2 separate regions of the Homo sapiens genome follow, and region 2 is linked to region 1. The links come from fine-mapping of genetic effects on gene expression. A gene starts in region 1. The other region holds a variant in brackets. All regions are shown on one strand. Distances are from middle to middle. Region 1 holds the start of LINC02347 (long intergenic non-protein coding RNA 2347). Region 2 holds the start of LOC105379613 (a long non-coding RNA gene).

Region 1 (8,339 bases):
GCTGGGATGTCACAAATAGTGGTGACTCAACTGGGATCACACACCTCAGGCCTCTGTGGTCACTGGCGGCCTGGTTACTTGGGTCATCCCTATCCACATGGCTTGTGTGAGCTTCCTCACGGCATGGCAGCCGCATAGTGGCTGGAGTTCTTACACAGTGCCTGGTTTTCCCCAGAGAGAAAGCAAAAGCTGTTGGACCTCTTATAGACGGTGACTGGAATCATCACAGTGACCCGTTACCACCTTCTCTTGTTCAAGGTAAGTTATACTGCTAGCCCAGATACAAAGGGAGGAGAAATTGACTCCCTTTCTTAACAGTTTGAGTGTAATGTGCGTAGAAAGAGGAATAATATTTATGATAGCCATCTCTGGAAACTATCATAACAATTAGATCTCTTATTAAAAAATTAATATAAGCATTTGATAAAAAATTCAAATCGTGTAGATATATCTACTGCATCCAATGCTAAGAGATCTTTGTGATTTATGCACTGTGCACTTGCATTGCATAGAGAGAGGGAAGATGTGGGATTTCTTTTTGCCCAAATAGAAACATACTATATATGCTCTTCTGCACTTTATTTTTATATGGGGGCAGGATGTAGGTCTGATTAACTTTTGCATTTCTGCCATACTGCCAAGTCTATTTGTGGAAATGTGTTTTTTAGTAATGTTTTCCAAAGGTATTAAATTAGGAGACACAAACTCCAATGCCCATAGCAGCCTAACAAGTGATATAAATGAGTGTCAGAAACCAGGCTAAGGCAATTGGGAGTGGTGGGGACTGCGGTGTCCTGAAGATCTAATGCCACCTCTGAGGCAAGCAGCTGCTACTCTGCTCCTGGCCTTTGCTGCTATGCAGAAACACAGGCCCAGCATTGCCACATCTTCTAAACTTTTAAAGAGTAGCCTGAAACCCAGGACCCTGCATATAAAACCCCCTGAACTTTGGCTATTGAAAACCAATGTGATTTTAAAAGCAATGACATGTAGGCCAAGAAAATATACCTATAGGCTGCATTCAGCCTTGAGTCCGCCAATTTACACCTTCTACAATGTTCTCATTGAGGAACCCCAGTGGGTACCATGACTCCCTCCTTCTAAGCTGTCTTTCCTAGGTTTCATCTTCCCACATATGGGCAATGTTAGAGGCACTTCTGCCTCATTTTATAAAATTTGGCCATTTTCTACCAGGCCTTAAAGAGAAGAAGAGATGGAGTTAAGTGAGAAAAATATGGCTATGTGGGGAGTAAAGTGAATATTCCAAAAGTAAGTATCCTCTGGGATTGAAGAACGAACGAAGTGGACAATTATTCAAGTGACTCTTCTGTCTAAACTGGCCTTGGGTAAGAAAATATGCCCGTAGGCTGCTCTGTATTTTTCTACTCTGGGTGGCCTAGCAGCCTACCTGGCCCAGGTGATGGCTTTCAGGGACCACACTTTAGCTGGGCAATGCACAGCTTTTCCGGGTTGTTATGTACAATTTCAGACTAACCCTCAAGGTCTACCCAGGATGATTAATCTTGAAATAATTTCAGATGCCATTTATTATGGCTTGGAGCTTAGGAATATCTTCAGACCCATTGATGGGAACACTGACTCCTGAGCACAGTCATTTGAGGTGTCTTTAAACAGAAAATTTCAATGTTATCTCAGTTGGGACACACTTTTTCAAAAGCACGATCGGTTGCCAAGAATAACAGGACTTCATATTGCAGAGTGAATTCAGAGGATCAAACTCCAGGAGCCTTCGGATGTCTGATTATTGGATCATCCTGTCTGGCTGCATAAGATGCATCCACGATATTTACTTGGTGCCCACAATATTCCAGGATTGTCCTAGTTGCTTATACGTATTTGTTCTGATTTTATTGGTGTGTAAAGGAGCCCTTGCCATCTTTTCTTTTTTTTTCTTTCTTTCTTTTTTTTTTTTTTTGAGACGGAGTCTTGCTCTGTCACCCAGGCTGGAGTGCAGTGGCGCAATGTCGGCTCACTGAAAGCTCCGCCTCCCGGGTTCACGCCATTCTCCTGCCTCAGCCTCCCGAGTAGCTGGGACTACAGGTGCACGCCACCACGCCTGGCTAATTTTTTATATTTTTAGTAGAGACGGGGTTTCACCGTGTTAGCCAGGATGGTCTAGATCTCCCGACCTTGTGATCCGCCCGCCTCGGCCCTTGCCATCTTTCTACTTGAAAATGAGATTGAAAGTTGTTTCAGCTCAGATCTGAACTAAACACTTTTTATGAACCAAAAGTTCCCACCCGCGGGGCTTAAGAGTTGCATTAGTGCCAAATAATTGACTTAATTATTTTTAGCTTAATGAAAAATGTCTCATTTTCTACTTGATTGATTGATTCTGTATCCTTTTAAAAATTTTTTTGGTATGACACAACTGTCTGAACTATGTCTAGCTCTGTTTATATTCTGACTTGGAGGAATTCTGGGAGCCAAATCATAGCTAAACGTGTGAATCTTCACTAATCGAAATGGGTGGAATTTTCTGTAAAGATGCAAACTGGCTTGACTGTGTCCAGTTATTGCTCCTGAATCCTAACTGCAGTGAATGGAGGGAGGGGCAGTGTACTACGCGAGAGGGTGGGTCCTGAAAACTAGACATCCCTGGGTGCTAGCCCTGTGTTGAACCTCTTTCTCGTGCAGATTTGGACAAATATTTATTCTGCACTTTAGTTTCCTTATCTGTAAAATGAATATGATAAGAATTATGTTTACTTACAATATAAACCTCTTCAATGAGTAGAAGCAGTGAGAGACATAGTATAAGTAATCAATACACGCTAAATGTCTCAGAAGTCATCTTAGAACATTAGTAGAATGTATTTTTTATAGTTTGATTTTAAATTCACAAATAGTAACTGTATATATTTATAGAACAAAATGTGATGTTTTGATACCTGTATACATGGCGGAATGATCCAATTAGGCAACTTAGTATATCATCACCTCAAATATGTATCATTTCTTTGTTATATGAACATTACGTGTTTTTGGACTAAGTGAAACAGAGACTGTTTGGAAAGCCATAGAAAGTAGCCACCCTCTTTTTATCCTCACACCAAAGAAAAGCTGACCACTTGCTAACCAGCCCACTTATTTCACCTTAAAGTAAATTGAATCTGGAACCCTGGATCATTCTATGAAATTTTCCAAAAAGCTAGTCAGAGGCCGGGCACCGTGGGTCACACCTGTAATCCCAGCACTTTGGGAGGCTGAGGCACGCGGATCACCTGAGGTCAGGAGTTCGAGACCAGCCTGGCCAACATGGTGAAACCCTGTCTCTACTAAAAATACAAAAATGAGCCAGGCTTGGTGGCGGGTGCCTGTAATCCCAGCTACTCAGGAGGCTGAGGCAGAATAGCTTGGTCCCGGGAGGCAGAGGTTGCAGTGAGCTGAGATCCCGTCATTGCACTCCAGCCTGGGTGACGAGAGTGAAACTCCATCTCAAAATAATAATAATAATAATAATAATAATAATTAAAATCTAGTGAGAAAGCAAAGTAAACTCAAGGAAGTCCTGGCTTTGCGATTTTGTTTTGTTATTCCTAAGCACTGCCTCACCTGCTCTAGCGTGGGAGCTGAGTCGTCAAGGGGAAAGACAATGAAATTGCTCTAAGTTATCATCTCTCCAGGCATTGTTCTGTAATAACTGTCACTGTTAACAGAAGAGGCCTCCCTCCTGCAGTGGGAATACCAGGGGTGGGCACTGTCAAGAGACCCAGCTTTGACTTCAAATGCCACCCAGAGGGACAACTGCTCACTTTCAGAGCAGGAGCAGGAGGCCAGAGGAGAGTGTGAGTCTAACATCTGCACAGTGAGAAGTCCAGGAGAAGCAAAAATGAGATCCAGGCTGGAGCGGCTGTGCCAGAGTAACTGTTCCAGCGGGTGTGGGGGAGGGTCCCCCAAAAAGACTTACCTGGACTGAATGGGAAATAATAGAAAATAGGAGCAAGAGACTGTCACTTTATAATAGGTTCTGTTATGACCTCCTACAACAATATGTTAGAAATTATGATTTCTAATATGTCTATGATACAGATAGACATATAGTTAGAAAACTAAATAAAGAGACAGATTTTGAGCTAGGTATACTTACAGATACAGACATTGATATCATAGATAAACATGTTCTTTATTTTTATATTGTCAATGTTTGTGTTGCTGGAAAAAGGGGTCCCTATGATCCAGACCTCAAGAGAGGGTTCCTGGACCTCCCACAGAAAGGGATTCAAGGTGAGTTGTAGAGTGTAGTGAGAAGAGATCATTTATTGAAAATTCTTCAGATTCAGAGTAGGGTGTCCTCAGAAAGCAAGAGGAGGAATGCCCTGTCTTTGTTTTAAACTCTTCTTACACAGGGGTCTCATCTACATAAAAGCTAAGCTATCTCTGTGTGTGGGTGGGCTGACAATGTGACAAGATGTAGTACTTTGGCCATTTAAAGAAAGTTATCCTTGGCATTTTAGTTTATAAGTACATGAAAGCATGATTGTACATTTCTTAAAAGCATATATTGTTATGTGATATTGGGACATGTGGACTTTCTGCTGTTGTAGGAGTTTGTCCTTGCAGGCATTGCCAAGCGGTTTCCTCTGCAGTAAACATCTTATGACCACGGGTCATAACTGGCAAGGAATGTGTGTTGCGAGTTTAAAGATGGAGTTAATTTTAAAATGGTGACACCTGGCTCTCTAGGCGCCTGCTTTTCTAACTTTTCTAGGTATAAACCTAATCTTCCTTGCTAGATCACAACCTCCAATGATCTATTTTTCATCTTCAGTTGTCCCAAGCACTAGCTTGTTCTGCGAGCGTCTCGTGGTCATGGAAAACTGATAAAGCACAGCATGAGAGGCTCAATGGATAAGAAATTATAAAGAATCACTAAATTTGCATAGGTGTTTTGATTGTGACCTACCGAGGAAGGAAGTGGAGAGGGTGTGTGGGAGGGAGGACAGCAGATGTGTAGACACGGCTTCATTTGCCTCCCACCGGGAATTTTGCCCGAGACTTATGGAGAGAATGGCCATTGGCAGAGACTGAAAGAGTTGATTTGATTCTCTGAGGCCTGATGCACTTGGTGAATTGTTTTGGGGTCTCTGTGGCATTAGGATAGGGGCTTTTTTTCTTTTTGTTTGTTTTGTTTTGTTTTTTTGGTCAAATGTCCTGTGTTTCAGGTTTCAACCAAGACTTTGGGAAACCAGGACTACTTGAAACCCTGATGGACTGCAGTGTTCAAAGAAGGAGGGAACAAAACCCTCTGGAAACCTCTGGAATTAGTGGCTGGGAAATAGCCCTTGGTTACTCTATGGACAGCAGATGTCCCAGACAGAGCCAGAGCCTAAGAACATGGGAGGTTTTTTCGTTGTGGTTTTTGTTTCTGTTTTGAGACAGAGTCTCGCTCTGTCACCCAGGCTGGAGCACAATGGCATGATCTGGGCTCACTGCAACCGCTACCTCCTAGGTTTCAGCGATTCTCATGCCTCAGACTCCCGAGTAGGTGAGATTATAGGCGCCCACCATCACGCCTGGTTAATTTTTATTTTTTATAAAAATGGGGTTTCACCATGTTGGCTAGGCTGGTCTCAAACCCCTGACCTCCAGTGATCCACCTGCCTTGGCCTCCGAAAGTGCTGGGATTACAGAGCCGCTGTGCCTGGCTAACATGGGAGGTTTTTAAATATCTGTGTTTCCAGAATGAACCGGTGAGTCTTTGAAGTCCTTGTATGAACAGGACTGGGCACAAGTCAACCAGAATAATTTGCAGACATGCAAGCTGTTTGTATCCAGCGGATCAATAGCAACCTGTTTTAGCTTTCCATCTTTCTTTAAGGAAATGTCCTATCTCCAATACTACTGTGAAATTCTAGAGCATAAGAAGAGAATAAAGTCTTGATGTACGGTTTGGTTGGTAGGCAGAGCTCCACCCCACCATCTCCTTGGTGACAGTGCCCCACTCGTGAGAAGGGTACTGTTTCTTCCCTGGTGTTAGTGTTACCTAGTATAATGCCTATGTGACATAGCTGAATTTCTACCCTATCCTAACTCTGCTACTCTTTAAGGATGCCTGCAATAAAAAGTTCCCTTTTTAACCAGACCAGCTGAAACTGATTAGAGCCAAGATAGCCAACCAAATGACTTCAGGAAGACCTCAGGCTTCATTATCATCTCATTTCCATGCTAAAAAAACCCAGCTCCCTAGAACAATGGGAAATATTGGGCACTTCATCAGGCGAGTTCAGGTGCATTTCTAGAGATTGTCCAGGTGAGTCAAAGAGCAAATGCCATGAAGTAGCCTCAGCCCTTTGGGTCATGGGAAACCATTTTTGAAATAATATTACATATTTGTCAGAGTTTGAGCTGGGCAAGGGATTAGCCTTTTCTCCAACTTCACAATCAGATTAAGAGGAAACAAAGCCTCAGGACAAATTCTGCCATACACATGAGTATTTGATAATTAATACATATTATCAATAGGAACACAGCGGTCCATACATTCTGTAAACTGTACGATACCCAGATCCTCTATCCTTGTAAGTGATCCAACTACACATTCTGTAATGGTCTCTCAGGCTGCAATAACAAAATGACACAGCCTGGATGGATTAAACAACAGAAAGGTATATCTCATAGTTCTGGAGGCTGGAGGTCAAAGACGAAGGTGGGGTGCTGGCTGGCTCAGTTTCTTCTGAGGTCCCTCTGCTTGGCGTGCAGATGCCACCTTCGTACTGTGTCCCAGCTTGGTCTCTTCACTGTGCGTATCTCTCATGTCTCTTCCTCTTCTAGGAACACAAATCAAACTGGATTAGGCTCCATTGTTAGGACCTCCGTTAATCTTCATTAGTTCTTTAAAGGACCCTATATCCAAGTACAGTCACATTGGAGGTTCAGACTTCAACACATGAGGCCTGGCGTGGTGGCTCATGCCTCCAATCCCAGCATTTTGGGAGGCCAAGGTGGGTGGATCACCTGAGGTCAGGAGTTCGAGACTAGCCTGGCCAGCATGGTGAAACCCTGTTTCTACTAAGAATACAAAAATTAGTTAGGTGTGGTGACACATGCCTGCAATCCCAGCTACTTGGGAGGCTAAGGCCGGAGACTTGCTTGAATCTGGGAGGTAGAGGTTGCAGTGAGCAGAGACCACCTCACTGCACTCCAGCCTGGGGAACAGAGCAAAACTCCATCTCAAACAACAACAAACAACAACAACAACAACAAAAAGAAAACAAAGACTTCAACACATGAGTCCTTCAACACATAACACATGCCATAAAAGATCCCCATGGGACAGTTATGACAATGTTCTAAAAGAAGAAATCCATCACAGTTGGCATCTGGCAACCTGAATTTGCCATCTCAGTGACTGGATGGAGGGTGGTTTAGGGGTTTGACTTCATGTGCTCTCCCTACAAGTATAGAGTATGGGGCTTATGAGATGGTGAGACCTTGTTTTGCAGGTGTGAGGAGTGACTGATTCAGTTTATTCCATCTGCCTTTCTCGTCAATGAAAGCCCATTTTCTACATCCATGTTGCTAGAGAACACACCACTACACTTTCCAAGGAAATAGCATTTCTAGATGAATTACACTAGCTAGTGAGACCTCCAGTGTTGAGCAGACATAGAAAATGGCAGCTGACAGGCTTTAGTGAGAACTTCTGGACTGTGGACTTTCTAATTGGGCATTTGCTAATCAATGCAGGAATGTGAGTGTTTGATTACTGAAACTGCTACCCCAGGAGGTGAATTAAAACTAATTACCTTCATAGAAGCAGAGAGTATAAGGATGGTTGCCAGGGCCCGCAGGGAAAGGAAAATAGGGAGATATTGGTCAAAGGGTACAAAATCTCACTTATGCAGGATAAATAAGTTGTGGAGATCTATGTACTGCATTGTGACTATAGGTAATAATCCTGTATTATATACTAGAAATTTGCTAAGGATTGAAATATTAAATGCTCTCACTAAACACACACACACACAATGGTAATTATGTGAGATGAGATATGTTAAATAGCTCGATTGTGGTAATTATTCCACAATGCATATGTATTTCCAAACATCATGTTGTACACCTTAAATGTCTACAATTTTATTTATCAATTGTATATGGATAAAGATAGAAATTTAAATAAAATATATACTCTTTTACATCGCATTGTCAGAACTAAAGAAGAAAGGAGACTTCCAACATCATGACATGAATCGTTTCTGATGATGTCTAAATCTCCTCACAATTCCAACATCAGTTCCACTTTCCTTGAGAAAAATAAACCAGAATCTTTGTTTGGCTATAATGTTTCCGACAGTCTGAAAAAGAAAGGACTATCT
Region 2 (8,339 bases), 94 kb before region 1:
ATGCAGAAGGTCGGAAGGAAGGAATGAATGAATAAATAAAGGAAGAAAGGAAGAAACACAGAGAGAGAGAGGAGAGAAAGAGATGCATTGTGTATCCTAACTACACTAGAAACAGACAGGGCTGAGTGTGAGAAGAACTTTGTTCTTGGGCTCAAACAGCATTTAGAATCTTTCTTCCTTTTCCTCCTCTCCTTCCTCTCCTCTTTCTGAATCAGTCTCTACACTGCAGTTGCAGACTGGCCTTTGCTAAGCCATAGGAAATACAACTTCTGACAACTATAGGCTCACATGGGAAAGGTTTCACCTTTCAGAAAGGACAGAAGAGTCTTTGCCGTCAGGCTCAGAAAGAAAAACCACAAAGAAGGACTCTGAATGGCTCAGCTTGGGTCATGTGCCCATCCTCGGACCAATCACTGTGGTTTGGAGGATGGGCGTCTGTAATGGCCCTGCCTTGTGTCCATTCGTGATCAGGGTCCTGGATCAGTGTATTAGTTCCTCATTGTTGCTAAAGCAAAATGCCACAGACTCAAGGATTCAGAAAGATGCATTCTCTTATATTTATGGAAATCTGAAGCCCAAAATGGGTGTTACTGGACTAAAATCCATGTGTTGACAGAGCTGCATTCTTTCTGAAGGCTTCAGGGGAGAATCAATTTCCCTAACTTTTTCATCTTCATCTTCTAAATGCCACCAGTATGTCTTAACTCATGGTCCCTTCCTTCATCCTCAAAGCCAAAGTGAAGCATCTTCAAAGCTCTCATTTTCATTGTCTACTTTCATCATCACATCTCCTTCTTTGACGTTCCTGCCTCTCACTTTTTACTCACGAGGACTCTTAGGATGATAATAAGTCCACCTTGATAATCTAGGACAATCTCCCCATCTCAAGAGCCTTCACATAGTCACCTCTGCAAAGTCTCCTTTGTTATGTATGATAACATATTCAAAGGTTCTGGAGATTAGGCATGGACATCTTTGAGGACTGTTATTCTGCCTTCCACCACCTGTTACTAGGGGACAGAGGGCTCCCACACCACTTCAGACATCAGATGCTCCAAAGCAATAGACTCAGATCATGGACTTGATGCCTGAGTGTAATGGAGTGAGTTCCTTTCTTGGAACAGGCAGGTTTTGTATTGGTATCATATGTAGGCCTATTGTATAGTTGGAGATTGATACAAGTGATATTTGCACAGGGGAGAATCAGCACCTATGGCTTGGGGTTTTGTTTATGCTTCTTTAATCAGAAAAGCACTTGCTTGAGAAGGCGAGATCAAGAGTCCTTGTTGCAATGGCCATACCTCAAGGCATCAACTGAGCTTGATTGCTGGAGAGATGTGGCCTCTGGTAGCCAGACCTGCATTCAAAAGTTAGGTGTGCTACCATTTCTTTGAAACTTTCTAGCAGCTTGCATATAGAAATGCAATTTTAAGAAGCATATTCATAATGAAGAAGCCTAGTGATGTAGAATTTGAGATTTGGCCTGGAAAGCCTGTGTTCAAGTTACCACCAGGCCCCGGTGAACGTGATCAAGACTTTTCACCTCTCTGAGCCCAGATTCACCCTCAGCAATCTCCTTGCTCTTTTTCACCACCAGAGGCCCCCTTGGACCTTCTCATAGCCACTCCCTTTCCTACCAGGCCTTCCTTCACCTCTCTCTTTGAAGCAGTGCCCATCCCCATAAGCATTCAGCCCGTCCTCTTCTCTGCTTACCCACTTACTTGTTTATTTATGTCTCTCCCCAGGTAGGTTGTTAGCTTCCTAGAGTGGGGCCTGTCTAGTTGATCCATGTATGTCCAGAGCCTAGAACAGTGCCTGATTAATAGCGGGTGCATAGTAAATATATTTTTAAGAATATAAATGAAAGGTTCAATTTTACAAATAAGACATGTAAAGTCTAGAGATGTTAAATATAGATCCAAATCTAACAAATAGTACAATTTAGATTAAAGCCTGTCTAGTCTTTCCATTTCCTAGTTCTGTGTTCTTTCAATTATATCAGTGTTTTTCCAACTTTATTGATGATGGCCCAAAGAAAAATATACATTTCATATATCATACACACACGTATATGCATAAAGTTAAAGAAGTCATATAGAAAATATTTTCCCTCACTATTATATGAAAATAAAAGTTTTATTTTATATCAAATGTGATTTTATTACTATTGGACTATTTTATCTTTTTTAATTTGAAAGTTGTGATCCACTAAATCGTCGGAATGGACCGGCCATGGTGGTTCACACCTCTAATCCCAGCACTTTGGGAGACCAAGGCGGGCAGATCACCTGAGATCAGGAGTTCAAGATCAGCCTGGCCAACATGGCAAAACCCCATCTCTACCAAAAAATCGAAAAATTAGCTGCGCGTGATGGCATGTGCCTGTAATCCCAGCTACTTAGGAGACTGAGGCAGGGACAATTGCTTGAATCTGAGATGAAGAGGTTGCACTGAGCAGAGATTGTACCACTGCACTCCAGCCTGGGAGACAGAATGAGAGTCTGTCTCAAAAAAATAAAAATGACAATAAATCAATGTAATGACCCACTAATGATCTGGCATCCATAGTTGGGAAATATTCCCTTGTTTTGTTTTTATGAAAGATGTGTGAAATGGACTGTAATAGAGATAATATCTAATTTTTTTCTTGTGTGGGCATTAGCTAGTTAAGGACATTATTCATACTGTCATATGTCTTTGGTTTGCAAACTGTTATTTTGTCTCTTAAACATCTCTTGAATTGATTTCCTTCCTCTGCTACCTATTTGTGTAAATAAAGTTTTAACGAAACACAGCCATGTCCATTCACTCTGCAAGAGCCAAATTGGGCAATTGTGCCAGAAACTGCACAGACCATGAAGCCTATTGTATTTTCTTTCAGGCCCTTTACAGAAAAAGGGCTGCTGACTCTTGGTGTAGCGCCTCCTCCTGGATTGTCCGGATGAGTGCAGGCCCGCATCCCCAGAGCTCACCCCGGGAACAGTGACTGTCCATCAGGGGCTTCCTCAATCACATGCAGGTGTCCTTGCCTGCTCACATGTCTAGAATTGGATAATTTGAAAGAAAAGTTGTATTTTGTCCCATGCTGTGGGTTTTATGCTCAGTATATCAGATCCTTGTGGTTTTAGGAGGAAATGTGAAAAGGTAATGCCTAGCAACAGCACCAGGGTGTCGAAATCATTATCCATGTTCCCTCCCCTGGTCTATCCTGCCCTCGGTGCTCCCATTCCGGTGAGGGGCAGCACAGCTGGGATTGGCTCCTCCTCTCCCTGTGTGGTCTCACAATTCCAGGGTCCATAGGAACCCAACATGATGGAAGTTAGAGGTGTTCATTCAAATATGAAAGCTACTTAACATTTTTTCTTAAATTTGTATACACTTAAGGAGCATAAATGCAGTGTTGTCACATGGATATATTGCACAGTGGTGATGTCTGGGATTTTAGGGTAATCACCACCTAAGTTATGTACATTGTCCCCATTAAGTAATTTCTCATCCCTCATCTCCCTCCCATCCTTCCTCCCTTCGAGTCTCCAGTGACAATTATTCCACATTCTGTGTCTGTGTATACACATTATTTAGTGCACAGAGTACACAGCTCATCTCATTTGACTTTTTCAAGGCTCTTGGGGAAGATGAGGTAGGAGTTGGCATTTATTTTCTGAGTGGAGAGACCAAATGCATGTGATTTGATGAGCCTGGCAGATCTGTACTCACCCCAAGGTGATGACACCTTGCTGCCCTTGACCCATAGACAATGAAGTGGCCAGGCTGTGTGGTTAAGAACAGCAGATAATTCTGTCTCACTGCTGGTGTCACCCATGCACAAAATGCTGGCTGGAGGAAGGGCTGGTGGGTAGTTGTTTTAAGTACGGAAATTGGTTAATGCCCCAAAGCCAATGCATTGAGTTGAGATTCTTCCCATGAAGCGCCGAAAGCTTTTACAAAAGCCATCAATCTCAGCCCAACAAGGAAAGAGAGAGAAGAGGCCCTGGGTTTTGAAGAAGGGAAATTGAGGTGTTTCAGCAGGTCCTAAAACTATACTCAAACCTCAGTCCAGAATGAATGGATTTTCATCTCATCAACATTGGTAGATGCAGCCCATTTAGCATGACATCATAAACTGGAGGAAGAAGAGTGCAGAGAGCTCATTAGCATGAGTTGTCTTGGAAAGCTTTCGGAACAAGTTCTGAATTAATTAAAATTTCATTTGGATGATGAGCACATGGTTATATTTATTTTATTCTCAAGCCTTTCTATAGTAACTGAGGAGGCTCCCCTCTGCAGAATGCCTGATGGCAGTGGCCCTGCCATACATCATTTGGAGGAACTGAGAGGGTTATTTTTAACTCCCCATTATTGAAGAAAACACACACATCTGGAACATTGTGGGGGTGACGATCAGCTGTTCAGATGAGAGATGGTTTGTGGTAGGCCGTGCATCATTTTCTAATTATTTTGACTCTGCTCGTTGCCGTAAACACCTTGGGCATCTAAAATCTGGCCCATTTAATCTCTAAATTGTATGCTCTCAGTCTGTCATGGAGTCTTTGTTTAATGCAATCTCTACTTTTATCAGGCAGTAAAACCAAGACAAATGGAATTCCGGTCAGTGCAGTAGCCTACCGTGGGTGCAGTAGGAGACCCAGCTGCAG[A/G]TGGAGGGTTATGACATGGAAAATGTCTAGGGGGCTTGATGGTAGCTGGGGGTTTGAGAAAAGATGGATAGTTTTGAAGTGAAAAACAATTATTTATTTGCTTACAGTTGCCTAAGGAAGCTTGGAATTTTTTTAAATAGGACCATTTATGAGGTTGACAAAAGAAAGCTCGTTGTGACAATTTTCCATATGAACTTCCGACAGATGGTGTAGAGTGATTACACCGGCCACGCAGGATGGAAGGAAGTCAGCCAGATTCTTGCACCCCCTCATTTTCACAAAGCTGTGGCTCTCTCTGCATCTGGCAGTCTTTTTTCATTGAAACCATCCACTTCATTAATTCCAGGCAGGAGCCTGAATGGTGAATAAAAGCGTAAGAGTGCCTGTTCACTTTTGTGAGGTTGTGTCATGACAACACACACCAGCACTCACAGAGACTCACACAGGTAGCAGATGCCATCGGGAAATTACACCGGAAAAGTCAGTGCTGCCATACGGAGGTCAATTTCATATTTAACTTACATAGGTGGTGCTCTACATTTTGCATTTTATTTTATTTTATTTTATTTTATTTTATTTTATTTTATTTTATTTTATTTTATTTTTCGTGCAGATAATATTTTGCCATGTTACCCAGGCCACTCTTGAACTCCTGGGCTAAAGCAATCCATCCAACTTGGCCTCCCAAAGCGCTGGGATTATAGGCATGGGTCACTGCACACCCAGCCCACAATTTCACATTTTAGTATCTCAGGTCCTTTGTGAATCATTTGACACTACCTCATTATAATAGAATATTCAACTAGAAGATTTTAAACAAGAAAGATTAATTCACATGACAAGAAGCTAAAGCTAGGAAATTTCAGGTTTTGTTCAGCCATCTCCCAGGTCTCCAAGCACCCAGTTCTTTCTATCTTTCTGCTGTACCCACTGCATGTTGGTTGATCCTTGGTCTAGTCTCCTCATGGTCACAGAATGGCTGCTGGAGCTTCTCACAGCATATCATCACCTGCTTACTTACATTCAGAGGCAGAAAACTGGCAAGTTTTACTTTTTTTTATTTTTATTTTTTGTCAGGAAAAAGCTTTACATAAGCCTCAATTAGTGTCTTTCTTAGGTCTGCCTGGACAATATTGGGTCACCTGTCATCTCCAGAGGACCTGGGAAAGTGAATCTTTATTCAGTATCTATTCTGGGATGTGAGCTTGGTCAATCAGGAGGAAAGAGAAGGGGACCTGTGGATGGACACTCAAGAGGCGGCTCCAGAAAAAGGTTTTTAATTTTTGTTTCTCCAGAGAGGGGCCAATGATTAAGCTTCATCCATCATCATCTCTGATATTAATTCATTTACTAGATTCCATTCCTTCTGGAAGGATCTTCAGGTCTGATGAGGCTGGGGAAGGGATTTGGGACCAGTAAAGCAATGAGGTGGGGTGGGGAGAGTTCCTGGCAGGGCTGGGCTGGAGCTGTCAGTCAAAAGGACAAGGTTGTGCAGAACTGCTGTGTGGAGGAGAACAGAGGCCTGAATGCAGCATGCTGACCTGTTGTGTTCAAACTGTTCAGAAACAACTTTTTTTGGTTTTTTGAGACGGAGTCTCACTCCGTCACCTAGGCTGCAGTGCAGTAGTGTGACCTCGGCTCACTGCAACCTCCACGTCCTGGGATCAAGCAATTCTCCTGCCTCAGCCTCCTGAGTAGCTGGGACTACAGGCGCCCACCACCACACCTAGTTAATTTTTTGTATTTTTAGTAGAGACGAGGTTTCACCATTTTGGCCAGGTTGGTCTTGAACTCCTGACCTTACATGATCCATCTGCCTCAGCCTGCCAAGTGCTGGGATTACAGGCATGAGCCACTGAGCCCGGGCCAGAAACAACTTTAAAAAGTCATGGTTTAACAAAATTAGAAGCTCTCATATATGCAAATGAAAATTCCAAATTTTGGCCTCTTGTGAAAAATACAGAAGACAGGAGATACTGGGTCTGTGTCCTGGAGGCAGCACCTGAGGGGACATCTGTCATGGCCTCAGATCCAGGCGCACCACCATCCCCCTACCCTCACACCTGTGTCATGGCCTCAGATCCAGGTGCATCACCATCCCCCTACCCTCATACCTGTGTCATGGCCTGGGCTCCAGGTGCACTGCCATCCCCCTACCCCTCACACCTGCTCCCCAGGACTCCATCTTCCTGAAACATATGCCACTCCTGCCTCTCTCCTGGGTTGGGTAAACCAAGAGACTCAAGAGACAGCTGCCATTTGGAAGAGGGTCACCTGGAGCAGGCCCATGGCAGAAGCCCAATCAGAAATGCTGCTTCCTGCAGCTCATGGGGAGCTTCCTGCAGAGCTCCAGGCTCTGGGGCCATGGAGTAAAATGGCGTTGCCCACACAATCCACAAGGGTGCCTGTCGTGTTGTGCTCTGTGAAAGGCCTCACCTGCAGCACTGATTCCTGGACCCTGTGAAGAGGGGGTCTTTATGATTCCCGTTTTATAAATGAGAAGGCTGAGGCATGGGAAGTTGAGTCACTCTCCTTCATAACCAAAGGAGGACTCAGTCCCAGGCCTGTGTGACCTCAGCTGCCAAGACCTGGCCAAGAAACCTGATTCCAGAAACAGGAGCAAACACTAGCTTCAGCCTCTGGTGGACCTGGCCCAATGCTGGGTGGAGATCTCAGGGACCTGACTGGTCTTTTAGGGTGTAAAAGGGGGAACCAGTGGGTCAGGGAAGAGGGAGGATGGAGGATGAGGGACCATGGCAAGGTTGAGTCCAGTGTGATGCCTCCTATGTAGAGAGACCCCATCTGTGGGGGGGTCATGGCTGCCCACCTCATGGTGGTTCTGATGGCAAATGGGCAAATGTAGTGGTGATCTCAGGGCAAGTGCAGGCACAGTCAGTGCTCAGGAATGGCAGCCTATGAGCTGGCTACATTTCTCTTAAAATCACCAATTTCATTGTTGCCCAGCATGCCATCAGCCTATAGAGTCAGGTGCCCCAGATATTAAATCCCTGTTAATTAAGAGGGTCAAGTTATAAGTTCATTCACCAAACACTTGGTAAGCAAGTCTGAAGTAACAGCATATGCAAGCGCAAGGAGCACAAATATTATAACCTCTTACAGGAAAATAAACACACAAAAAACATACAAACAGGTCCCCATTAATATGGCCCCAAACGGCTAATGGAGATTCATTCTTATCTAATTATTAAAAGGGTTGTTTGTCAATGTTGGTCAATCTTATTTGAATTACCATGGCTACTATACACGACAGTACAAATCATTTTTTTTTTACAAAATTTGATAATTCAAGCGTTAATAAACATAGTCTTGTTTCCCTTAATTGATTAGCATTAAAGAGATTTAGCTGAACTTTTGAGCCCTCCTTGGCATTTTCTTTGTAAAAGACGCATAAGACTCCATAAAGAGGGAATCTGTAGCATTAATTGATGCTTGTTCATACTCCAACTTACCAGGCACATGTCTACTCCCCCAGAAGAACTTAGTCTTTCTTGTTAACATGAAATCTTAAGTTAGGTAAAAGGATAACAAGAAGATGTCTACCCTACAGTTAAGATTTGTGTGCCAGGCTGGGCGTGGTGGCTCACACTTGTAATCACAGCACTTTGGGAGGCTGAGGCAGATGGATCACAAGGTCAGGAGTTTGAGACAAGCCTGACCAATATG

The links. PIP is the estimated chance that this variant, and not a neighbour inherited with it, causes the effect.
Region 2: its variant is fine-mapped to the expression of LINC02347 in pancreas (GTEx, PIP 0.99).

The regions. Positions count from the first base shown.
Region 1 is chr12:126,438,780-126,447,118 of GRCh38, forward strand. It overlaps LINC02347 (long intergenic non-protein coding RNA 2347), which reads left to right and starts at 3,702. Exons shown (of 12, transcript NR_130748.1): 1 at 3,702-3,809; 2 at 4,187-4,248; 3 at 6,106-6,274. It overlaps LINC02825 (long intergenic non-protein coding RNA 2825), which reads right to left. Exons shown (of 4, transcript NR_147498.1): 2 at 6,641-6,791.
Region 2 is chr12:126,344,687-126,353,025 of GRCh38, forward strand. It overlaps LOC105379613 (a long non-coding RNA gene), which reads left to right and starts at 5,335. Exons shown (of 3, transcript XR_001749379.1): 1 at 5,335-5,927. RefSeq lists a silencer at 6,645-6,800. The variant A/G (reference allele first, on the strand shown) is at 4,656.